Linked DNA regions of Homo sapiens. The protein of the gene in region 3 interacts with the protein of the main gene of each other region in a pairwise test. Each region holds a gene or a part of one and is shown on either strand. Other genes may lie near its edges.

What was found.
Region 1: the proteins of GOLGA2 (region 3) and CDKL3 interact in binary tests that used the Homo sapiens proteins (3 or more experiments, as listed by UniProt).
Region 2: the proteins of GOLGA2 (region 3) and ZNF512B interact in binary tests that used the Homo sapiens proteins (3 or more experiments, as listed by UniProt).
Region 4: the proteins of GOLGA2 (region 3) and CCDC70 interact in binary tests that used the Homo sapiens proteins (3 or more experiments, as listed by UniProt).

What each region holds. Positions count from the first base shown.
Region 1 is NC_000005.10:134,308,149-134,315,194, reverse strand, and holds part of CDKL3 (cyclin-dependent kinase-like 3), read left to right. Parts: intron 1-1,277; exon of another isoform or gene 1,278-1,784; intron 1,785-2,814; coding exon 2,815-2,903; intron 2,904-6,467; coding exon 6,468-6,621; intron 6,622-6,728; coding exon 6,729-7,046.
Region 2 is NC_000020.11:63,966,901-63,973,787, forward strand, and holds the start of ZNF512B (zinc finger protein 512B), read right to left. Parts: upstream 3,031-6,887; 5' UTR 3,024-3,030; coding exon of another isoform or gene 2,914-3,023; intron 2,758-2,913; exon of another isoform or gene 2,618-2,757; intron 2,470-2,617; exon of another isoform or gene 2,342-2,469; coding exon of another isoform or gene 2,229-2,341; intron 1,053-2,228; coding exon of another isoform or gene 1,051-1,052; coding exon 930-1,050; intron 624-929; coding exon 481-623; intron 105-480; coding exon 1-104. UniProt on the Homo sapiens protein: Involved in transcriptional regulation by repressing gene expression. Associates with the nucleosome remodeling and histone deacetylase (NuRD) complex, which promotes transcriptional repression by histone deacetylation and nucleosome remodeling.
Region 3 is NC_000009.12:128,255,329-128,259,007, reverse strand, and holds the end of GOLGA2 (golgin subfamily A member 2), read left to right. Parts: coding exon 1-1; intron 2-437; coding exon 438-553; intron 554-809; coding exon 810-1,028; intron 1,029-1,115; coding exon 1,116-1,218; intron 1,219-1,300; coding exon 1,301-1,407; intron 1,408-1,482; coding exon 1,483-1,639; intron 1,640-1,726; coding exon 1,727-1,941; 3' UTR 1,942-3,179; downstream 3,180-3,679. UniProt on the Homo sapiens protein: Peripheral membrane component of the cis-Golgi stack that acts as a membrane skeleton that maintains the structure of the Golgi apparatus, and as a vesicle thether that facilitates vesicle fusion to the Golgi membrane.
Region 4 is NC_000013.11:51,857,266-51,864,998, reverse strand, and holds the start of CCDC70 (coiled-coil domain-containing protein 70), read right to left. Parts: upstream 3,031-7,733; 5' UTR 2,770-3,030; exon of another isoform or gene 2,711-2,769; intron 104-2,710; exon of another isoform or gene 15-103; intron 1-14.

The DNA.
Region 1 (7,046 bases), on a different chromosome or scaffold from region 3:
TGATTTGGAATGCTACATTTATCATAGACAAAATGCTTATACATGTGTGGGTTTGTTTCTGTTCCATTGATTTTTCTCTTTATTCTAGAAGTAGTACAACTTTGATTTATTATTGTAACTTTAAAATACACTTTGATATCTGATGTAGGGCACATATTTTTCCTAGATATAAATTTTCTAAACAATGTTATTGAGGTATAATTTGTGGGCAGTAAACTATACATACTTAAAATGTACAATTTGAAGAGTTTTGATGCATGTATACACACATGAAACCACCACCACAATCAGGATACCTAACACACACACACACAAACACACACACGATACCTAACATTTCCATCACTCTCCAAAATTTCATTGTGTCCTTTTACAATTCATCTTTTCTTCCATTTCTGTCCCCAGATAACCACTGATTTGCTTTCTATTCCCATAGATTAGTTTGAATTTTCTAGAATCTTATATAAATAGAAGCATACAGTAGGCACTCTTTCATGTCTGGCTTCTTCCACTCAGCATAATGGTTTAGAGATTCATTCATGTTTTTGTATGTATCAGCAATTTGTTCCTTTTTTGCAGAGTAGTAGTTCATTATATGACTATACCACATTTTAAAAAATCCTTTCCCTGTTGATGGACATGTGGGTTATTTCCCACTTTTCGCTATTACAAATAAAGTTGCCATGAGAACATTCATGTTTGTCTTTGTATGGAACACACATTGTATTTTCATTCCTCCTGCAGAAATATCTAAGAACAGAATGGCTGGGTCATGGGTAGGCATATGTTTAATTTTTAAAGAAACTGCCAATCTGTTTCCCAAAGTGTCATGTTTTACATTTTCCAAAGTAGGGCATATATTTAAATTTACTGAATTATATTCACAGAAGGACTGCCTCTAATTGTCTGCCCCTATGATTTGGTCAGACCTTTTAGCATTTTTCTTATAAGTTTTAGTGATAGATTACCATTATATTCTAAAATGAGCACATATTTTTAACTAGTTGCAGGGTTTTTTTAATTTGTTTGTTTCGTTTTGTTTTGTTTTTGAGACGGAGCTTTGCTCTTCTTGCCCAGGCTGGAGTGCAATGGCGTGATCTTGGCTCACCGCAACCTCCTGTCTCCCGGGTTCAAGCAATTCTTCCGCCTTAGCCTCCGAGTGGCTGGGATTACAGGCATGTGCCACCACACCCGGCTAATTTTGTATTATTTTTTTTTTAGTGGGGACGGAGTTTCTCCATGTTGGTCAGGCTGGTCTCTAACTCCCAACCTCAGGTGATCCACCCTCTGTTGCCCCCCAAAGTGCTGGGATTACACGCATGAGCCACCACACCTGGCCAACTAGTTGCAGTCTTAAAGACCTAGGTATTGCCACATCATTAAGTAGGTAACAGACTTAAATAATTTCTCCTTGTGAATCAATGTTTTTTATTTTGGTAAAAAAAAAACCCCACATAACATGGAATCTACCTTCTTACAAAATTATTAAGTGTACAGTATGGCATTTTTAACTATATGCACATTATAGTACAGCAGATCTCTAGATTTTTTTCTGTGAATCAGTTTAAATATGCATTTTGAAATAAACAGAAACATAATATTATATACAATTATCTTGGATTTGCTGGATTTTAATTGTGGCTCCTCTACTTATGAGATCTTAAACAAATTACTTGATCTCTCTGGGCCTCAGTCTCCTCATCTGTATAATGAGGATAATAATAATACTTACTTTGTAGGATTGTTGTTGCGATGGAAGGAAGAAAAAGCTGGAGCGTTGTCTGGTATGTAGTAAGCATCAATAAAAGTTACTAGTCAGGCTTGGTGGCATGTGTCTGTAGTCTGAGCTACTCAAGAGGCTAAGGAAGGAGGATATCTTGAGCCAAGGAGTTCAAGGCTCCAGTGAGCTATAATTGCACCACTGCACTCCAGCCTGGGCGACAGAGTAAGAACCTGTCTCTAAAAAATTTTAAAAGGCCAAGCACAGTGGCTGTCTTCTGTAATTCCAGCACTTTGGGAGACTGAGGCGGGAGAATCGCTTGAACTCAAGAGTTCATCAGCCTTACAACATAACAAGACTCCCATCTCTACAAAAAAGTTAACTATTAATGTTTTACCTCCTTTCACAGGAGGAATGAAAATTATAAAGCAGATGCTTTTTATTGAAAACCTGTTTTCAGTATTTTGATTAAAGAAATGTGTTCCATTTATAATTATTGTTATTTAACTACATATAGATTTATTATGTACAACTTAACATTCAAAACTACCTTCCATATTTTGTTTGTTTGTTTCTATACCAAGAAAGGGAAACAGAAAAGAGCTGATTTAATAATGGGTTATTGAAAGATTTAGGGACTTGAATATTTGCAAAATGGTATTATGATATAGAAAGAGTGCTGGATTAGGCGTCAGACAACATGGGTTAAAACTCGTGTTTGGCAAACTACTAATCATGCTTCTAGATCTGTAAAATGCAAATGATTATCCATGAACTTTCCACCTGTCAGGGCAGAAAAGAGGATCAAAATGAGCTAATTAATTTTTGCTAATTTCAGCAGAAACAGACTGACCTCTGTTTTGGCTAGAATCATGGGACATTTAACCTATAATAATGTTTTGCAAGTGCAAATTCCTTAGGGAAATAAACAGCCAGAACTTACTACCAGAAGTTCCTGAGGTCTAATTCCATCTTTTCAAGAAGGCTTTTTGATCTGGATAATTACTTACTTCTTAATTTGTCAAATAAATTTAATTTTTACCATATGGAGCCCTGTTGAGAGCTCACTTATTAAAATCTTTTTCCTTTCCTAGGCTTGTTTACAAATTGATCCTGCTGACAGGATATCATCTAGTGATCTTTTGCATCATGAGTATTTTACTAGAGATGGATTTATTGAAAAGTAAGCATTTTGAGTGAATGTGGGTTTTTTAAAAGCATTTTGTATTGGGAAATTTTACTAGCAGGAAAATTGCTGTATAGGTTACTTTTATATAACAAATATTCAGTTTAACAAAAATTTATTGAGTTATTGTATCAGGTATTGACTAGGAAGACAGCAGACTTAACAAGTGTCACGAATGAAAAGCCTAATAATAGGATGGGCATAGTGGCTCACACCTGTAATCCCAGCACTTTGCGAAGCTGAGGCAGGCAGATTGCTTGAGCCCTGGAGTTCACGACCGGCCTGGGCAACATAGAGAGACCCCTGTCTCTACAAAAAATACAAAAATTAGCAAGGTGTGGTGGCACACGCTTGTAGTCCCAGCTACTCGGGAGGCTCAGGTGGGAGGATTGCTTAAACCCCAGAGGTGGAGGTTGCAGTGAGCTGAGATTGCACCACTGCACTCCAGCCTGGGTGACAGGTTGAGACCCTATCTCAAAAAAAGAAAAAGAAAGTCTAATAATAAAAAGTAATTGCAACTAACATTCGTTACACAGTTACCATGTCCTAGGCAGTGTGCTCTGCTCTTTACATACTACAGTTTCAGTGTCATCATAGACCAGAGATAACATTAAATAAGCAATCAATACTTCTTAGCTTTATTCCTGTTTGGACCTCTGACTCAGAGAATAGTCTGGTTTTTCCTCTTCTGATGACATTCATTTATCATAATTAGCATGCACTTCCCAAATGATTTTTTTTCTACTTATTCTCTGTTGCAGTGCTTGTTGTCTTTTTTTTTTTGAGATGAAGTCTCGCTTTGTTGCCCAGGCTGGAATGCAGTGGCACAATCTCGGCTGACTACAAACCTCCATCTCCCGGGTTCAAGCAATTCTCCTGCCTCAGGCTCCAGAGTAGCTAGGATTAGAGGCACATGCCACCACGCCTGGCTAATTTTTGTATTTTTAGTAGAGATGGGGATTTTGCCATTTTGGCCAGGCTGGTCTCAAACTCCTGACCTCAGGTGATCCACCCGCCTTGGCCTCCCGAAGTGTTGGGATTACAGGCATGAGCCATTGCGCCCGGCTGCAGTGCCTGTTGTTGTATCCTACCCATGAAATTGGAAGTTCCCTGAAGACAGGTGCCATGCTTCTTATGGCCCTTCTGTGCCCCACATTGCCTATGACATGCCCAGCATATAATCTGTATTACAATTTAGATTCATGAATCAGCCATATTTCTAAAAAAACACCATTTTCTATTTGGGCTTTGAAAGAAACAGGAAAAGTTTCTCATTAACTGTAAAACCATTCAGCTTGTCTTTGGACGTGACGTTAGAAAGATGGACATCCATTAAAAATGTGATGGAGCTAAGGTCAGATATGGAAGAGTCCAGGAACTGCTATTGGAGATAGACTAAATAGAAAAAAGCGAAGAGAATCCTTGAGGGTGACTAGAACTTTGCGCATTTCAGGAATTTTACTCTAAAACAAACAATAAGATGATATATTTAAAGTGCCATTGGCAAGGTGCTGCAGCTCATGTCTGTAATCCCAGCATTTTGGGAGGCCAAGGTGGGCAGATCAACTGAGGTCAGGAGTTCAAGACCAGCCTGGTCAACATGGTGAAACCCCATCTCTACTGAAAATGCAAAAACTTAGCTGGGCGTGGGCATGTGCCTGTAGTCCCAACTACTCAGGAGGCTGGGACAGGAGAGTCATTTGAACCCAGGAGGCTGAGGCTGCAGTGAGCTGAGATCACACCACTGCACTCCAGTCTGGGTGACAGAGCCAGACTCCGTCTCAAAAAATAAAAGAATAGGCCGGGCTTGGTGGCTCACACCTGTAATCCCAGCACTTTGGGAGGCCGAGGCGGGCAGATCACGAGGTCAGGAGATCAAGACCATCCTGACTAACGCGGTGAAACCCCGTCTCTACTAAAAATACAAAAAACAAAATTAGTTGGGTGTGGTGGCGGGCCCCTGTAATGCCAGCTACTCAGGAGGTTGAGGCAGGAGAATGGTGTGAACACGGGAGGCAGAGCTTGCAGTGAGTGGAGATCGTGCCACTGCACTCCATCCTGGGTGACAGAGCGAGACTCTGTCTCAAAAAATAATAATAAATAAATAAATATAATAAAAAATAAAATGAAGTGCCATTGATAAAAAGTGGCAGTTATTGGCTGGGCATGGTAGCTGATGCCTGTAATCCCAGCACTTTGGAAGGCCGAAGCAGGCGGATTGCTTGAACGTAGGAGTTCAAGACCAGCCTGGGCAACATGGCAAAACCCTGTCTCTACAAAAAATACAAAAATTATCTGGGTGTGTTGGTGTATACCTGTAGTCCCAGCTACTACGGAGGCTGAGGTAGGGGATTTCTTGAGCCCAGGAGGTCAGGGTTGCAGTGAGCCATGAGTGTGTCACTGCACTGCAGCCTGGGCAACAGAGAGAGACCGTGTCTGAAAAGAAAAGATGCCAGTTATTGAATTAAGAGGTTGCTTCATATCACTTCTACACAGACGAAGTTTATTTTTCTTGGACATTTAGATATTAGGCTTCTATTATTGTGGGGTGAAAGTACCTTGAGTTCAATTTATAGAATCCTCAGAAGAGTGGGCTGGACTAGGGAAGAATTCATTCATGGGCTGATGTTTTAAAACCTTCCCAAACTGATAGCTGTAGCTGCTTCAAGGAGGGGACTTGTGCAGTTCAGGGAAGGGGTGGGAAGGAAACTTTTCAGTATGGACTTTTGAACTTTGAACCACATGAATGGACTTTCTAATCAAAAATAACTTTTAAAAAGAAAGAAATCAAACTAAAACCAAAATAATCTCTCTCCAATATGAAGGTATTCTGTTACATTTCTCTAGAGTAAGATTTTAGAAGTTAGTTAGTTCATTTTTAAAGTTCTATTACTTTAAAGAACCACAGCTGGGTGCAGTGGCTGACGCTTGTAATCCCAGCAACTTTGGGAGGACGAGGCAGGTGGATCACCTGAGATTGGGAGTTGGAGACCAGCCTGACCAACATGGAGAAACCGCGTCTCTACTAAAAATACAAAATTAGCTGGGTGTGGTGGCACATGCCTGTAATCCCAGCTACTCAGGAGGCTGAGGCAGAATCGCTTGAACCCAGGAGGTGAAAGTTGTGGCGAGATGAGATTGTGCCATTGCACTCATGCCTGGGCAACAAGAGCGAAACTCCATCTCAAAAAAAAAAGAAGAACCACAGAAAAGGTCAAAGTGGTCTGAGTCTTCCTTAAAAATAACAGTATCTTTATCAAAATTAAAAGCAATATTTTTCTGAGTAAAGTTTGCATCGCAGAAGGAATCTAATTAGTATAAATCTATTTTGTAAAAGTTTTATATAGTAGGTTCCCATAGCATAATTTTCGAAAGATGTATCTTTAGAAGAAAGCAATTTTTATTAGGTAAATGTTGGGCCATCTCTTGACATGCATTATAGTTAGCATTATTTATGCTGTAGCTGAAATGTACATTAATTGATGAAATGGTTTATTCAAGATAAAATACTCCATCTGCATATATAAAAAGATTACTCGTTGATATTGCTTGTTTTGTCAGATTCATGCCAGAACTGAAAGCTAAATTACTGCAGGAAGCAAAAGTCAATTCATTAATAAAGCCAAAAGAGAGTTCTAAAGAAAATGAACTCAGGAAAGATGAAAGAAAAACAGTTTATACCAATACACTGCTAAGTAGTTCAGTTTTGGGAAAGGTAAGAACTTTGGTTTTTGTTTCAGCCAGTATAATTATATTATAGTTAGACTCTAATGACAAAAATAACTGTTATGATGACTCAGATTTTGGATGTATCTATTCCAGGAAATAGAAAAAGAGAAAAAGCCCAAGGAGATCAAAGTCAGAGTTATTAAAGTCAAAGGAGGAAGAGGAGATATCTCAGAACCAAAAAAGAAAGAGTATGAAGGTGGACTTGGTCAACAGGATGCAAATGAAAATGTTCATCCTATGTCTCCAGATACAAAACTTGTAACCATTGAACCACCAAACCCTATCAATCCCAGCACTAACTGTAATGGCTTGAAAGAAAATCCACATTGCGGAGGTTCTGTGACAATGCCACCCATCAATCTAACTAACAGTAATTTGATGGCTGCAAATCTCAGTTCAAATCTCTTTCAC
Region 2 (6,887 bases), on a different chromosome or scaffold from region 3:
TTGAGCCCGTAGATGCTGGGGAACTCCAGCCAGCACCCTGAGTTTGGACACTTCACCCTCGAGTGTGCCTTGAACTCATCCTTCCAGTCGTTCATCAGGGAGAGCTAGGCGTGGGGAAAGGTGGTGCTGCTGACCCGCAGCCACCTGGGCCACTGCCAGCCCGAGCCCCAGACTCAGAGCCCCCCCGGGCCTGCAGGGCACACACACCACATGAGCCCCTCAACCTCGGGACTGCAGTGGGAATTCAAGCCACCTGGCAGGGGCCATGCACAAGACCCGTTCTAGGAGCCCACCAACGCGATCCCCCGAATCTCCCGGCACATCAGATACAAAGCCAGGCCACGTGAAGTCTGCCAGGCCAGTGCCCACATCTTGAGGCATAGAGTTGGTACCAGATGTGCAGAGGACAAATCAGGGCAGGGCAGTGGCTGGATAGGGAGACCCCAGCATGAGCCCCACCATGGCCCTGAGGGAGCTCACAGGAATGTCTCGGAGGGCCTGGTTCTCGGCTTTTGGCCGCCCCTTTTTCTTCCCTTCTGTCTTGTCACTGGCTGGACTTCCCGGGTCAAAGCAGAGAGGGGCCTGGCCGGGCACTGTCTGTCCACCACGGACCACCGGCATCCCTGCAGCACACAACACAGCAAGGCTCGGAAGCTGTGTAGCACCGCCTACCACCGGCGGCTGCACAGGCCCACAGTGAGCACCGCTGTCCCAACACGAGGGCACCGGGGGCAGGGGCTGCGGCCAGCTGAGGACAAGAACCCAGGACCCTGGGCTATGTCCAAGGCAACCCCTACCCTGGTAAGGTCCTTGGGAACTCTAGGGGCCTAGCTGGGTACCTGGAGACAGGACGCCCAGGGCAATGGTCCACTCCTACCACTTGCTGCCCAGAACCATCTGGAATTGACTCTGGCCCTGACTCCTCTTACCCATCTTCGGTGGGTCATGCAGCATTGGAAGTCGGACCTCCTTTCGGCTGCCATCCTTCCCGGGACCACTCTTGCTGGACCCCGGGAGCCGACGGCCTCCAACGCAGAAAGGATCCGTCATCTCTGCAGAGCAAGTAGACAATCTGTGAAGCCTGACGGGCCCCACTTGGAACACGTGGTGAGGCTGCCCTGGAGCCCTGCCCTTGGCAGGTCCTCTCTGGTCAGGGAAGAGGGGCCTGCCTTCCTGTGGTTTTGTTCACGTGGGAAAAGCAAGTGATGGGGGCTTCTGACTTAGGGGAGGGGCTGCCAGCCAAGGTCTCCCCAGATAACCCAGGAGTCATCATCAGTTTGATAGGATCTAGTCCTGTCCTGAGACCCTCACCAACTTCCAGACCCCCTTCCCAACACGCAGCTCTACAGTGTACGCAGCTCCACAGTGTGCGTAGCCCCACAGCTGCGAAGATGATGCCGAAGGTGATGCACTCCTACCCAGTGCTGGGAGGGGGTGTGCCCCTGGGAGAGGTGCCTTGCGCAGGAGGAAGGAGGCTGGCAACATTCCTCCAGGGGCCAATTATGTCTCTGATGATGGCTGCTGGCTCACAAGCTGCCCAGGCCCAGCAGTGGGGGCACAGCTTCTCACTGGGGCCCTCATACCTTCCCATGCTGACTTGATGCAATGCCAGCCTACCCAGGCAGGTACCCTTGGAATCTTCTCTCCAGACACAGATGGAAAACAGCCAAGGTGGGCACTGAGGACCCCTGGCCCAATCTGGCACTGCACCAAGCTCCCGTCCCTGTGCCGGCTGAACTATCCTACCTGATGCTCTTCGCAGACTTGTCTCCAGGCTTGGCAGGCTGACCCGCCCCCCACCTCTCTCTGGATCCTCTCAGTCCTCTGCCTACAGACCCACCACTACCACTTCAGCCAAACAAGTCGTGGAAGCACCAGCAGTGAAGGCCCAGGATGCTGGCCAGAGAGAACGCCCTGCTGCCCAAGGCTGGGGCCCCCGAGGGCCTGTGCTGCTGGGAACCCCATCCTGAGAGCTGGGGAGCAGAGGAGACTCTGGGCCCAGCCCTGTGGAAAAGCCACGGAAGGGGGTGGGACAGGAAGCAGGGTGAGGGTTGAGTGGGCAGGTGGCCCCCTCCTGATAGCTTCTAATTAACTTGGATCCGAGGGGATGGGAAGGGGCTGCTGTGTCCAGGAGGGCCAGAGAGCTGAGGTCAGAGGTCAGGACAGTCACTGCCCATTGCCAAGGGGGAGGCCAGTGTCCGGGGACAAAGTTCTCTGGAAGTCCTCACTTTGCAACTTTTGAAAGGAGACAGGGCCGGCATGAGTCATCCCAGCACCTGATGACCCCGGTGGCCTGGGGTGCAGGTGCCTGCTGAGGCCCCACTTCCAATTTTTCTGAAGCCTGGGAGAAGAATTCAGAATAGTGGGGCCTGAGGCCAGGGCCAGCCTGGGAGGCAGAGACGCGACTGGCGCCCCGGATGAGAAGGGGCTTCGGCCCTCCCGAGCCCAGCGGGGACACAGAGCCCTCGCGGGGAGAGGGGGCTCCGCCGCGCTGCGCGCAGGAGACGCCAGCAGCGGGTCCGCCGCGTAGGCCGTTCGGCCCGGGACCCCGGCCCAGGCCTGGCGCGCGGGTGAGCGCGGCCAGGGACGCGCACCTGGGGCCAGCCTCGCCACCCACCTGTCACCTGGGGCCGGGAGCGGGCGCGGGGCGCGGGCCTCGGCCTGGCCGGGCAGGGCCGATCGCGGGCGCGGGGTGGGGGGGCGAAGGCAGTGAACCAAAATGGCGACTTTTTCTGGAGAAGGAGGAGGCAGGAAGACGGCGCCGGCGCGGGGCGCGGGGGCTCGGGCGCGGCGGGGGGCGGGGGGGCTCCGGGCCCGGCCCCCTCCTTGGCCTGCGCGCAGGGTCGAGATCCGGGGCGCGGTGGGCGCCGGGGCTGCGGCCAGAATGGGTCCGGGGCGCGGCCGGGCGCTTACCTGCGGCGCCCAGCGGGGCTGCGGCCGGGCCGGGCCGGGCCGGGGCGGGGGGCGCGGGGCGCGGGGCGCTGGGTCCGGGCGGCGCAGGCTGCGCGCCGCGCTGCGCACATGCGCGCTCCCGCCCCTCCCACCTTTGACAGTTTTACTGCGGGGGGGAGGGGGCGAACTCTCGCGTTATTCCCGCGGCCGCTCCGCGACGGGGAGGGGGCGGGGAGGGGGCGGGGGCGGGGGCGGGGGCCCGGCGCTGGCCTGTGGTTCCCCCGCTCCGCGGTTCCGCCCCCGTCGGCCGGGCCCGCAGTCCAGAGTAGCCGGTTCTGCCGTCCTGGGGCGGGGGACGTTTTTTGGACAGTGGGGTAAACTGAGGCCCGATAGGGGCGCTAGGCACTGCCCGGAGTCCGGCGCGCACGGATTGAGGCGACCTGATTCCGCCGCATCCTGGCCCGCGCGGCGAGTGTGGTCTCTGGGCTCGGGACCCTGACCTCTGGCCCTGGGGGCCGTGCACCGGCAGCGCAGGATTCAGCCTTCTTCCAACTGGCCCTGAGACCACTTTTGCGACTGACCCCCGGAGGTGCCTGGCGGCTTAAGGCCATGGGGTTTTACTGGGGTCACTGACCATTGGGTCACCCTTTCCCAGCTCTGGGGGCAGTGGTTCTGAACCAGTGCCAGGGCCTTCTCTGCCCCACAGCTTGGGCTTCTGCAGGCAGGGGGCACTGGGGTCCGGTGTGGGCTGAGTGGTCTGGAGGTGGCGGGGCACTGACAGCACAGGACTTGGGAATGAATGAGACAGAGAAAGGTTGGCTCTCCTAAAGAGGACTGGTAGGAGGCACCACACGGGACTGGCACAGGACCCACAAGAATCTCCCCCAGGAGAGCCTGCCTGCCTGCCTGCCTGCCTTCCTTCCTTCCCTCTCTTACTTCCTTCTCTCCTTCCTTCCTTCCTTCTTCCTTCCCTCCCTTCTCTTCCTTCCCTTCCCTCCCTCCCTCCCTTCTTCCTTCCTTTCCTTCCTTCTTCCTTCCTTCCTTTTCTCTTTCCTTCCTTCTCTTCTCTTCCCTCCCTCCCTTCCTCCCTTCCTTCTCTTCCTTCCCTTACCTTCCTCCCTCCCTTCTTCCTTCCTTTCCTTCCTTCTTCCTTCCTTCCCTTCCCTTCCTCCCTTCCTTTTCTCCTTCCTTCCCTTCCTTCTCTTCCCTCCCTCCCTTTCTCCTTCCTTCCTTCCTTTCTCTCTCTTTCTTTTTCTCCCCTCCCCTCCCTTCTCCTCCCCTCCCTTCCCCTCCTCTCCTTTCTCCTTCTCCGTTCTTTTTTTATTCTTGAGATAGGGTCTCGCTCTGTCATTCAGGCTGGAATGCAGTGGTGTGATCTTGGCTCACTGCAGCCTCTACCACCTGGGCTCAAGCAATCCTCCCACCTCGGCCTCCCAAGTAGCTGGAACTACAGGTGTGTGCCACCCCACCTGGCTAAGTTTTAAAGTATTCATAGAGACGAGGTCTTTCTGTGTTGACTAGGCTGGTCTTGAACTCCTGGGCTTAAGCCATCTTCCTGCCTCAGCCTCCCACAGTGTGGGCATTACAGGTGTGACCCACCGCCTCTGGCTAGGAGGGCATTTTTTTTTTTTTTTTTTTTTGAGACAGAGTCTGGCTCTGTAGCCCAGGCTGGAGTGCAGTGGTGCGATCTCGGCTCACTGCAAGCTCCGCCTCCTGGGTTCATGCCATTCTCCTGCCTCAGCCAACCAAGTAGCTGGAACTACAGGCGCCCACCACCACGCCCGGCTAATTTTTTTGTATTTTTAGTAGAGACGGAGTTTCACCCTGTTAGCCAGGATGGTCTCAATCTCCTGACCTCGTGATCCGCCCACCTCGGCCTCCCAAAGTGCTGGGATTACAGGCGTGAGCCACTGCCCCTGGCCTTAGGAGGGCCATTCTTACCTGTTCACAGCACCCATCTCCCAGGGAAGGCCTCAGGCCTCAGGAGGGAAGAGTCAAGGAGACTCTGGGTTTTCATCTTGTGCCCATAGAGCATTTTTTTTTTTTTTTTTTTGAGATGGAGTCTCTCTCTGTTGCCCAGGCTGGACTGCAGTGGCGCCATCTCTGCTCACTGCAACCTCCGCCTCCTGGGTTCAAGCAATTCTGCCTCAGCCCCCTGAGTAGCTGGGATTACAGGCACGTGCCACCATACCCAGCTGATTTTTTGTATTTTTAGTAGAGACGGGGTTTTACCAAGCTGGCCAGGCTGGTCTCGAACTCCTGACCTCGTGATCCACCCACCTCGGCCTCCCAAAGTGCTGGAATTACAGGCATGCGCCACCGCACCCAGCCAGCATTTTTTTTAAAACCATGTGCATATATTACTTTTATAATTAAAACAGACTTTTAAAAGTTTCGTAATGCCCCTTTTTGCATACTACAAATATTCTGGACTCCTTAAAATTGATGTGGGCTGGAAGTTGCTAGTCAGGAAATGGAACTACCAGGTGTGCCTCCTTCGCTGGGGCCCTTCCGGCCCAGTCGGCCCCTTTCCCTGTACCCCGTGGAGCAAGCTCAGAGGCACTGCTAGGGGGTTGGGCAGTAAGATTTTTGCCTTTCCTCAAAGGGGCCTGGGATCTGCTTCACTCAAGGCTGGTGCAGAGCACTCACATGGAGATTGGAGGTTGGCTCTTATAGAAGAGGCAGTCAGTCAATCCTTCCTTCGGGAATCTGAGTCAGAGAGGCCAGTGCACACCAGCCTGTGTGACCCGAGGAGGAAGGGGAGGGCATTCCCTGTGAGGCTAGCGTCATCACGTCCTTCCCTTGTTGACCTTTCCCACCCTGGGGACGGGACCAGCAGGATTTCCTGAGGGGTCAGTGTGTGTCCCCTTAGGTGCAGCCAAGGCCGTCAGCTCTCCCTGTGTAAGTCTGGGTGTCCATACATGCGACCTGTTTGGACATTGCCGTGTCAGGATATGACAGTGTCCCATGCTAGGTGAGACCAATGCCTGTCTGTATTTTAGCATCTGGGCGACTAGACCTCAGGGTACCTGGGGACGATGTGTCTGGATTTCAGTATCCATGTGTCCAGGCTGCGGCATGTCTCAGTGTCAGGGTGCTGGTGAGGGACGGCTGTTTTCTGTGAGCATCTACATGCCAGGGTGTCGTGGAATACAGTGTGTTTGTGTGCACCGGGGATGTGCCGTGTCCCATGTGTTTCTATGTGTTAGGAGGTCGTTGTGTGTCTGCATGCTAGTATTTGTGTATTTGTGTAATGACATCTTTGTATGGGGGCATGCTGTTACATACCTTTGTGTCTGTGTGCCTGGCCAACTACATGCATGTGTTTGTGTGTGTTGGTGTTTGCTGGTGTCAGTGTCATTGAGTCTCTGTGTGTGGTTTATGCTCTTATGTGTCTGATTGCTGTGTGTGTGTGGTGTGTGTGTGTGTGTGTGTGTGTGCTGTGATCTGTGTTTGAGACAGGGTCTTGCTCTGTTGCCCAGGCTGGAGTGCAGTTGTGTGGTTAGAGCTCACTGTGCCTTGAACTCCTGGGCTCAAGGAATCTTCCTGCCTCAGCCTCCCAAGTAGCTGGGACTACGGGTATGCGCCACCATGCCTGGCTAGTTTCAAAAGTTTTTTGTAGAGATGGGGTCTTGCTATGTCACACAGGCTGGTCTTGAACTCCTGGCCTTCAGCGACACTCCTGCCTTGGTCTCCCACAGTGCTGGGATTGCAGGCGTGAGCCACCGTACCAGGCCAGATGTTTGTGTTTTATCCCTGAACGTGTGAATGGGATCTTATTGGGAAAAGGGTATTTGCAGATGTGATGAAAGATCTTGTGATGAGGAGATTATCCTGTATTACCCAGGTGGCCCCAAATCCAAGCATCCTTATAAGAGAGAGACAGAGGGAGATTTGAGAGACAGAAGAGGAGGAGGTGATCTGATTACAGAGGCGGAGACGGGTAATGCCCATGCGCCCGAGTTCCCCCGGCAGCCACTGGAAGCTGGAGAGGT
Region 3 (3,679 bases):
GGTACGGGAACCTGCTCACAGGAAGAGGAGAGAGCCCCAGGAAGAAGGGGGGACTGTTAGCAGCGTAGAATTGAGGAGTTGGAAGAGACCTTTAGAACAGCTGGTCATTATGCCAACTGGGTGTCCACACTAAGTTCGGCATCAATATGGTGACTTCCTGGGAGCAGGGCACTACCAGCTTACCTAAGGATGGGTGAACTGGCCCAGGTCAGAAATGAAGCAGGTCAGAACTCCCATGCTGATCGGTAGTGGGACTGCACCTGGGCAGCATAGCGAGCCCTTGGCTCTTAAAAAAGAATAAAATAAAAATAAAGAACAGATGCTTATTTCCCTCTGGGGAGGGGCTGGCCCAGGGTTACACAGTGAGGGTGGGGGCAGAGGTGGGCCCACTGTACCCTTGTTGGGTTGTCTGATGACCCCTCTGGCCACCCCCATAGGAGATGGACTGGACCGGGAGGAGGAGGAGGATGAGGAGGAGGAGGAGGAGGAGGCGGTGGCAGTACCTCAGCCCATGCCAAGCATCCCGGAGGACCTGGAGAGCCGGGAAGCCATGGTGAGGCTGACTCCCCCTCCCCAACCTTTGCTGCCTCCCTCTGTGGTCCCTCCCAGACCCCCTTCTGCTCTTGGTTTCCCGGCCTTCTGATTTCTTCGGACCCTCACCCCTTTCCTGGGAGCCAGTGGTGAGACACCATTTCACTTGGGACCAACAAGTGCACCCTCTGAGGCCCCAAGGGAAGGGCTGCTCTCTACCTCCCTGCCCTGTTCATCCTATATATCCTCCTACAAGAATGCACCCCTCTTGCCTGCAGGTGGCATTTTTCAACTCAGCTGTAGCCAGTGCCGAGGAGGAGCAGGCAAGGCTACGTGGGCAGCTGAAGGAGCAAAGGGTGCGCTGCCGGCGCCTGGCTCACCTGCTGGCCTCGGCCCAGAAGGAGCCTGAGGCAGCAGCCCCAGCCCCAGGGACCGGGGGTGATTCTGTGTGTGGGGAGACCCACCGGGCCCTGCAGGGGGCCATGGAGAAGCTGCAGGTGAATGAGTCTCTCCTGGCATGGGTCAAGAAGGGTGGGGGCGGGGCAGGTCGCTGCCGATATATGACTCCATTATTTTGGTTCCAGAGCCGCTTTATGGAGCTCATGCAGGAGAAGGCAGACCTGAAGGAGAGGGTAGAGGAACTGGAACATCGCTGCATCCAGCTTTCTGGAGAGACAGACACCATTGGTGAGTGGGAGGCCAGGGCACGGCAGGAGGAGCTGCACAGCGGTCGGAGGGAACCCAGCATCTGAGCCCTGTCCTCCCGCAGGAGAGTACATTGCACTGTACCAGAGCCAGAGGGCAGTGCTGAAGGAGCGGCACCGGGAGAAGGAGGAGTACATCAGCAGGCTGGCCCAAGACAAGGAGGAGATGAAGGTAGGGTGTGGAACATCTCTGGGGGTGGAGGTGGGCACGGGCATGGGCATGGCAGCTTAGCACCCCTCCCTCCAGGTGAAGCTGCTGGAGCTGCAGGAGCTGGTCTTACGGCTTGTGGGCGACCGCAACGAGTGGCATGGCAGATTCCTGGCAGCTGCCCAGAACCCTGCTGATGAGCCCACTTCAGGGGCCCCAGCCCCCCAGGAACTTGGGGCTGCCAACCAGCAGGGTGGTGAGTAGAGCCCTCGGGAGGGGTGGGCAGGCAGGAGTAAGGGAGGGCTCGCGTGGCACTCAGAGCCCTGCCTCTCTCTCTCCAAAGATCTTTGCGAGGTGAGCCTCGCCGGCAGTGTGGAGCCTGCCCAAGGAGAGGCCAGGGAGGGTTCTCCCCGTGACAACCCCACTGCACAGCAGATCATGCAGCTGCTTCGTGAGATGCAGAACCCCCGGGAGCGCCCAGGCTTGGGCAGCAACCCCTGCATTCCTTTTTTTTACCGGGCTGACGAGAATGATGAGGTGAAGATCACTGTCATCTAAAAGCCGGCTACTGTCAGCAAAGCCTGAAGAAGTGGGGCTGGATACCCTGCCCCCACCATATCCCTACCATCCCTTCTCAGTCAACCCTTTACCCTTACAGTAGCAAGCATAGACCCCTGTCTAACGGGGGTAGACAGGTGCAGATGAGGTGAAGATCACTGTCATCTAAAAGCTGGCCACTAAATTAAAAAAAAATTAAAAGTTATGGGATTAAAAAAAGTTATGGGATAAAAAAGGTTATGGGTAACTTATGGTATAAAAGTTATGAAAAAAGGCCAGGTGCAGTGGCTCACGCCTGTAATCCCAGCACTTTTGGGAGGCTGAGGTTGGGAGTTCAAGACCAGCCTGGTCAACATGGTGAAACTGTGTCTCTACTAAAAATACAAAAATTAGCCAGGCATGGTGGCACGTGCCTGTAATCCCAGCTACTCGGGAGGCTGAGGCAGGAGAATCGCTTGAACCTGGGAGGTGGAGGTTGCAGTGGGCTGAGATCACGCCATTGCACTCCAGCCTGGGCGACAGAGTGAGACTCTGTCTCAAAAAAAAAAAAAATTATGAAAAAAGTTATGGGATTAAAGAAAGTCAGGATAAAAATTTTAAAAAGCAGGCCACTGTCAGCAAAGCCTGGAGAAGTGGGGCCGGAGGCTCCGCCCCCATCATGTGCCTGCCACCCCTTCCCAGTCATCCCTTTACTCTTACAGTAGCAAATAAGACCCCTGTCTAATGGGGGGAGACAAATGTGTAGACCCTTAGCCACCTTGGCCAGGGCTGACTCCTTAAATTTCTGGATGATGATGATTGTTATTTAATAGCCAGAGGCTCATATAATTGGCCTCTTTGGAAGAGGCCTCATGGCCTCCTTACTCTCACCAAAGCAATTTTTCCCTCAGGGGGGCTCCCATCTTCTTACACAGAGAGGCAGCTGAGGCAGGACAGTGGGGCTAACTGTAGACCAGGCGAGGGCACGGGCTGCTGGGGTGGCCCTGCTTCCCCAGTGTACATATTGTATCTGTGTAACATTTTGTATATTCCAGGGGTAGGGCCGCCCCCTGTATCATACCTAGCAGAGGTTGGAGCTGGCACATGGGGAGGAGGTTCTAATAATTATTTGGGGCTGGGAAACTTATTTATTGATAGCATAGGACAGAGGAAGGAGGCGGGGATGGGGTCGTGGCGCCCTGGTGATGCGACTCCTGTTTATTTTGCTTTTTATTTCGGAATAAATGGATTTAGCCATACTGCTCTGCCTGATGTGTTCCTGTTTCTCTCACTGGGTCCTGGAGTTTGTGCCACTGAACAGGGAGCCCCAGAGTGTCTGAGCATGTGCAGCTGGGCTGTTGGGACCTTCCAGGCTTGTTACCTGTATGCTGCCTGGTGACATCTTGGGGATTACACGGGGACTACCATGGTACCTATGGGGACAGTTTGGCCCCGATGGCCAACAGGCTCAGAAGCCTGATCTAGCGGTGGCCAGGAAGACAGGATGCCAGCACCCAAGGGCACTGACTTCCATCCAGCCCAGGTGTCTTCCATTCTGTCCCCCTGCCTCCCTCGCCTGCCTGAGCCTGGTGGCCTGTTCTGTCTGTCCCTCCAGAATGCCAGCCGCCCTGCCGGCGCCCTCCAGGCTGAGTTAATGGCCCTGCCCCCTAGTGGCCAGAGCCCGCTTCACAGGATGAGAGCCCCCTAAGCTCCAGGGGCTTTCCAGGAAAAATGTCCCTTGGAAAAGATGTGGTCTTTT
Region 4 (7,733 bases), on a different chromosome or scaffold from region 3:
TTTGGTGTACTCACTTGAGAATTGTTCCTATCTGCCTATGGGCATGCTCACGTGTGAATGTCCTCTGTTACGAGCCTGGGACACAGAAGACAGGCCCACTGACCTCAGAGGGGAGGAGGAGAGTGTATTTTAGGAGAGGAGTTTATTTTGGGAAAAGTGGTTTAAAACAAAAAGGTGAGAGACGATGGTGAATGTTTCCAGGGACATGGACCAAGAAGGCCCTCACACAATATTTAGTAATATGGAACAATAAGAAAGACACCAGATGACCCGCAGCTCCAGTCCCAGGTATAAACCCTGAGGAAACTTAGGAACTGTGACTAGGATACATGTACAAGTGTGTTCAAGGAGCTTTGTTCATAAGAGCTCAACTCTGGAAACAATCCAATGACCATCCCAATAGAGTGGAATAAAAAATGGCAGTATATCCACATGGCAGACAGCATGGCTGCCTACAACAGCATGGGTAAATCTTATAAACCCAATGCTGAAAGAGAGAAGCAGGATCAGGGAATTTCAAAGAATGAAGTTCCAAACAAGCAAGACTAAATGCCATTGTCTAGGGGAACATACTTCAACACAGAAAGAGAAAAGCAAGGAAGTGAGTCCCAAAGTCAGAGTAATAGTTGCTGGTGTGGGAGGATTTGGAGTGTGGGATGAGGAGGTGAGACTAAGGGGTGTGATTAGGTGAGTACTTGAGAGAGGCTTCTGCAGTGCTAGCAGGACTCTTTCTTTGCTTGGTGGCGGTTTCATGTGTGTTGTTATAAAAATGTGTTAAGTGGTACATGGATATTTTATGTACCCCAGTCAATACAGTATATTTCACAATAAAATAAAAGCTGGGAGGAAGAAAGAAGGAAAAGAAAAAAAGAAAAGAAAAAGAGAGGGAGGGAAGGAAGGAAGGGAGGGAAGGAAGGGAGGGAGGGAAGGAGAAAGATCTTCAAACATTGCCATATATCTGAGGAATCAGATAGCAGAATTATCCATAGCAATCCCTGTAACTACAAACATGAATCAAGGGATGAGAAAAAGTGCTGGACATAGGAAGGTGGTTAGAGTGCAGTAAAGAGCTCAGTGTTGTCAGATAAGGAGTGCAGGCACATGCTGACAGCATTGTTTTCCATTTTGTGCTTTCTGGAGGAAGCTGCCAGGGTCCGGCCCTCACTCAGTGGATCTCACCAACCCATCATCCGTGAGACCTATTGGGGAAATTTTCAGGGCTTTCTCTGTATTTTTCCATTTCTGGTTTAGGAACAGGGAGTGGAGGAGGAGAAAAGACACATAGCTGGTGTGTGTGTGTGTGTGTGTGTGTGTGTGTGTGTGTGTCTGTGTGCGCGTGCATATGAAGACACAGTGGCTAGGCTGTGGACAGCTGGTGGCATCACCATCCATCCAGTCACACAAACCAGAACCAGGGGCACATCCTTGACCTTTCCCTCTCCCTCACCAGACTTCTCTCCTCAACCATCAAGCCCTCCTAGCCGAGATCCAGATCCTTAACATTTCCTGAAACCATGCCCCTGTTCCATCTCCCCCATGACAGCCAGGTCAGGCCAGGATGCCTGTAACAGTCTCGCTGCTCTCTGTATTGATCTTACCCTCTCATCTGCCCCTGCACTGTAGCCCTACAGGTGTTTTCTAGAACACTCTCTCGTCCTATCACATCAGTTCACACACCTTCAAAGACCCTGTAGCCCAAAGATCAAAGCTGAACGCCCTAGGAAGGCCTTGTGCAGCCCAACTCCAGCTTGCTTCTCCCTCTCCTTCCTACCCAGCCTGCACCCAACTCCAAATCTAAGGCCCAGTATTAACGGGCTCTATTCAGCTCTTGGCACTCTGCCTGCAGTTTCCTGCCTGTGTGGTGAAGCACATGTCGCATCCTCTACTGAGAGCCCCTTTTGTTCCTGTGGTGGGCTTGAATTCCTGTACATCCTTTCCCCTCTGAAAGCTACTCGGACCCTCCAGACAAAGTTCCTCGCCACCTCTGCGATACTGTCTGTCTGTTACTCCACTATTACTTGTCACACTTGATTGAAATTAGGTGTGGACATGTCTTCCTGACATCTCTGTAACCCAGCAGCTATCATAATATAACGCCGCCTATATAGGAGGGAATTGGTGAAAATGTTGGTTGAATTGAACTGAATTGAACTGCATTTTGGAAATTTGATTTTCTATGTTGTATGGCTCTTTGCCTAGAATCCCTCCAATATGTGAAGTCCTCCCTCACTTCCATGTCATGCTGGCCCCCTCTCCCTGGATATCCTTGCCCAACCTCACTTCAGTTCACCTAGCGAATCCTTCAGCACTCAGATACCTCCTCCAGGCCATCTCTCCTAAGCTCAGACTGAGCATGTGCCCTTCCTGTCCCACTAGAAACACCTCATCTTCCATCTCTATGTCTGGCATCCAGCGAAATGTTCTGCCACAGGATAGGTGTTCAGGAAATAGTAGCTGGATGAATGGGCGTCTACTGGGTTAGGATGTTGGAAAACATTCACCTCCAAGTTTTTCTCAAGTGAACACTAAACTTTCTTTAAGAAAGAAAGAAAATAAGAACCATATCAAATAGGTAGATGTGTATTAAAATATAAAGTACAATATAAAACTGTAGATGTGTATCTGTATAGCTGTAAAAACATGCACTAAAGATACATGCCCAGTTTTCAGTTATACTGTAAGACTAGGAGCTTCTTTTTAAGGAAAATATTATATATTACCTTATGCTTAGAACAAATACTATACAGTCTAAAGCCAACAGTTACTTACTGCTTAGCTGCTTCCCACTGGGGTAAGTCCTGTAGCCCTCAGAGGGGGCAGGCGGCCATTGTCATGTCAGATCCCCAGTGATGCGTGCTTGCAGGCTTGCCCCAACAATGCTGGCAGTGACCTGTCTGTGCCCTTTCAGTCCTGACTCACAGGATGGAGATGGCCAAGAAGGGGACCCCTATAAAAGACTTTAAGGAAAGGAGGGGGCACTTGAAAGGTTTGAAAGAGTTCCTCTTCAATCTTTGACTTCACTGATAGGGCAGTGCTGTTGATGACTCACAAGTGATTGTTACCTTAGATTCTGTCAGCATTGGTTCCGGGAGCATGGTTCTAGGAAGTCATGTTCTGGTGGGGGCTTTGTGTGGGATGAATCACTTCTCTTGCTGCTTTCCAGATTCTTCGTCTTTGGCTTTTGATAGTTTGACTATGATGTGTCTTGGTCTTGAGGTTTATTCTACTTGGAGATTGTTGAGCTTCTTGGATATGCAGATTTGATGCCGTTTTTCATCAAATTTCAGAAGTTTTTGGCCATTATTTCTTCAAATATTCTTTCATCCATTTTCTCTGTCTCCTCTCCTTCTAGGGCTCATATTATGTGAATACTAGTAGCGTGAGTGTGTCCCCCAGGTCTCTAAAGTTACGTTCATTTTTCTTCATTCTTTTTTCTTTCTGTTGCTTAGATTAGATAATCTCAATTAACCTGTTTACAAGTTCATGGATTTTTTTCTTCTGTCAGTTCAAATATGCTGTTGAATCCCTCTTTAATTTTTCATTTTCAACTCCAGAATTTTTGTCATGTAGTAAAATTTTTAAATAGTCAAGTAAATTAACATATCCATCATCTCATATAGTTACCCTTTTTTGTGCACTGTAGCAAGAGCACCCACAATCTACTCTCTTAGCAAAAATCTTTAATACAGTGTTATTAACTACAGTCCTCATGTTGTACCTTAGATCTCTAAATTATTTATCCTATATATCTGCAACTTTGTACCCTTTGATTTCCCTCTTCCCGTCCACTCCCCACACGTAGCAGCTGCCATTTTATTCTTTGTCTGTGTATTTGACTTTTTTCTTACTTCTTCTTTTTAATTTTTTTAATATTCTACATATAAGTGAAGTTGTGCAGCATTTTTCTTTCTGTGTCTGGCTTATTTCACTTAGCATAATATTCTCCAGTTTCATCTATCTTGTGACAAACGGCAGGATTCTCTGTTTATGACTGAATAATATTCCACTTTATATACATGCTGCAATTTCTTTATCCATTCATCTGTCAGTGGACCCCTAGTCCATCCAGAATTTCTCCAGAAATTTTCACTGTGTCTCCAGAATTTGTTTGGTTATATATAGAAAAGGATATATGTGCTTTTCTATATACATATATATACACACACACACACACACACACTTCTATATATATATTTTTTCTATATATCTATATAAAAGTATATGTATACAAAGTGTGTGTGTGTGTATATATATATATACACACACACATATATATATGTATGCACACATACTTTTCTGTCTCTTTTTGGTAAGGCATAGTTTTTAATTCTTTCCTTTAATGCTTTTTTTTTTTTTTTTTGAGACATGTTTCTGTCACTCAGGCTGGAGTGCAATGGCATGGTATGATCTTGGCTAACTGCAGCCTCAATTTCCTGGACTCAAGTGATCATCCCACCTCAGCCTCTCAAGTAGCTGGGACTACAGGCGTGCGCCACCAGACCTAGCTAATTTTTTGTGTTTTTTTAGAGATAAGGTTTCTCCATGTTGCCCAGGCTGGCCTCAAACTTCTAGGCTCAAGTGATCTACCCATTCGGCTTCCCAAACTGTTGGGATTATAGGTGTGAGCCATCACACCTGGCCTTGTTTTCCTTTAATTCTTTTGGAATGGTTTCTTTTAGTTCTTTAACTACATTTGTAATAGCTGACTAAAAATCTTGGTTTAATCGCCCAATATCTGCAATTCCTCAGAGACAGTTTATAACCAAAAAGACAATTACTCAGAGAATAACAGTTTCAGGCCAGGCATGGTGGCTCATGCCTGTAATCCTAGCACTTTGGGAGGCCGAGGAGGGAGGATGGTTTGAGCGTCCTCCTGGTAGGAGTTTGAGACCAGCCAGAGCAACATAACAAGACCCTGTCTCTACAAAACTAAAATAAATTAGTCAGTTGTGGTGGTGCATGCCTGTAGTCCCAGCTGCTTGGAAGGCTGAGGAAGGAAGGATCATTTCAGTGCAGGAGGTCGAGCTGCAGTGAGCTATGATCGTGCCACTGCACTCCAGCCTGGGTGACAGAGTGAGACCCTGTCTCAAAACAAAAAAAAAAATAGAATAACAGTTTCTACTGTCTGCTTTTCCCCCTTTATATATAACTCTGTTTGCAATAAAGGGTTTCCTGTTTCTTTATGCCTCAAAAAATTTTGTTGAAGTTGGACACTTAAAATAATATAGTAACTAAAAATGAGATTTCCACTCCCAAGTTTTGTTGGTGGCATTTATTGTTGTTGCTGTTGCTATTTGTTCATTTAGTGACTTTCTTGGACAAATTCTATGAAGTCTATATTTTTTATCATGTGTGGGCATTAAAGTCTGCTTATTAGCTTAACGATCAGCTAATGACTGGACAGAGATCTCCATGAACTGATGTCTCCTTTCCTTTGCTGAGGGGGTGTCTGTGTGTGTGTGTGTGTGTGTGTGTGTGTGTGTGTGTGTGTGTTTGGTTGGGAGTCGGGGGTGCAGGTTGGGCATACCTTTAGTGATCATGCAGGCAGTTTATGATTCTGCCTAGCCTTCGCTTCCTTCTTGTGAGAGCCTCAAAGTCAGCCTGAGGTGAGAGATTATGGCCTTCTCAGGTCTTTCTCAGCCATGTGCACAGTCACATGCATGTGACCCAAATTCTCAGGACTATATCAAAACTTTTCAAAGTCTCCGTCTTATTCTCCAGTTTTTCTTTTTCAGTTATTGGTCAAGCCTATGGTTAACCCCAGCTAGTAATGCCAAATCAGGCAGCTATGATATTAAACAATTACCATTTTTTTTTTTTTTACAAATGCCCTGAGGATAGGGTTATTTGCACAGAGTAAGCTCTGAGTCAAGTCAAATAAAGACAAATTCTGTGAAGGAAGCTTTTCAGTGAACTGCCAAACAGGTCAAATAGTAAAAATTCTTTGAGGATGGAAAGAATCCATCCTAACCCTTACTCAGTCATTCTGGAAGTCTCAATCATTGGTTTTTAACCGTTCTTCTTTTTTAATATGTGTGCTTAAGACCATCAGTTTCCGAAACAGCCAAGTAAAAAGGGCTCCCGGGAGAACCTCCGACCTGCCACCGGGTGGATGGGGCGGGACCTCGAGAAGTTCTCACTGTTTGCAGGGGGGAAGGAGCTTGGCCTCTCATGTTTCTGGGTGGCAACCTAGGATTCAGTCTGTGAGATGGGGGCCTGTTAACAGGAACCCCTTTCGCTTTGCTGAGTTTTTTTCCTTTTACACCCAATAAATTTCGTTTTTCTTACCCTTCTGTGTGTCCACAAGCCTAATCTTTTCCTGGTTATGTGACAAGAACCCAAAGAACCCGGTTTTTAGCTGAGCTAAGGAGAAAGTCCTACAACATTTTCATCTAAGTACACTTACCTGCGTCTCACATGTTTTGATATGTCACCTTTTAATTACCATTCAGTTAAAATATTTTCTGATATCCACTGGAATTTCTTCTTGGATCTATTGGCTATTTACAAGTACATTGCTTAACTTCCAAATATATGGGGATTTTCCAATTATCTTTTTGTTACTGATTTCCAGCTCAATTTCATTATGGTTTGCACAAAGTATATGGTTTGTATACTCTGATTTCAATCATTTCAATTTGCTAAGACTTGCTTTATGGCCCTGTATACATTCAATTGTGGTAAATGTTCCATGTCCACTTGAAAATAATTGGTATTCTTCAGTTGCTTGATGCAGTGTTCTCTCTCTCTATGTCTGAATTAGGTTGAGTCTTTACCTATGTTGTTCAAATCTTCTATATCCTTATAGATTTTTCTGGCTGCTTGTTCTGTCAGTTACTGAGAGAGATGTACTTGCAGATCTATTTCTTCCAGTTAGGTCAGTTTTTGTTTTATATACTTTGAGGCTATATTATTAGATACATGCATATTTTACAATTGTTATATTTTCTTGGCATATTGACACTTTGATTTTTATAAAATGCCACCGTTTTATCTTTAGTAATACTTCTTGCCTTAAGTTCTACTTTGATCTTAGTATAGGCACGTCAGCTTTTATTAGTGTTTGCATGGTGTATCTTTTCTATCCTTTTATTTCAACCTTTCTGTGCCCTTATATTTAAAGTGTATTTCCTATGATGAACATATAGTTGAGTTTTGTTTTTTCTACTGTAATACAATTTGTCATTTATTTGGTTTTTAAAAATATTTACACTTAATATAATTACTGATTTATATTAGATTTGAATCTATTTTCTTACCATGTTTTTTCTACTCCTACCTGTTAAATGTTACTTTTCCTTTTTTCTTTTGGATTAATTAAATAATTTTATTATTCCATTTTCCTCTATTATGTCATTAGCTATATATTCTTTTAGCAATTATCCTGGAGATTATAATAGGCATCCTTGAGTTGTTAAAGTCTAATGGATTTTTATCTTTACTGTTTCTCTGATAATGCTAGAATCTTAGATGATTTTAACTCCACTTATACCCCTTCTACCTTTTTCATTTTGTTGTCATAAATTTTAATTCTGCGTATATTCAAGACTCCTCAAGATTTTGCTAGTCAACATACATTTGTAATTACCCATATTTTTACCTTTTTTCATGCTCTTCATTTCTTCCTGCATCTCTGTGCTTCTGTTTGGGATAATTTTTCAGGTACTCAAAAAATCATATTCTTTAGTATGGGTCTTGTGATGAAATCTCTCACTGTTTATTTGTTGAAAATA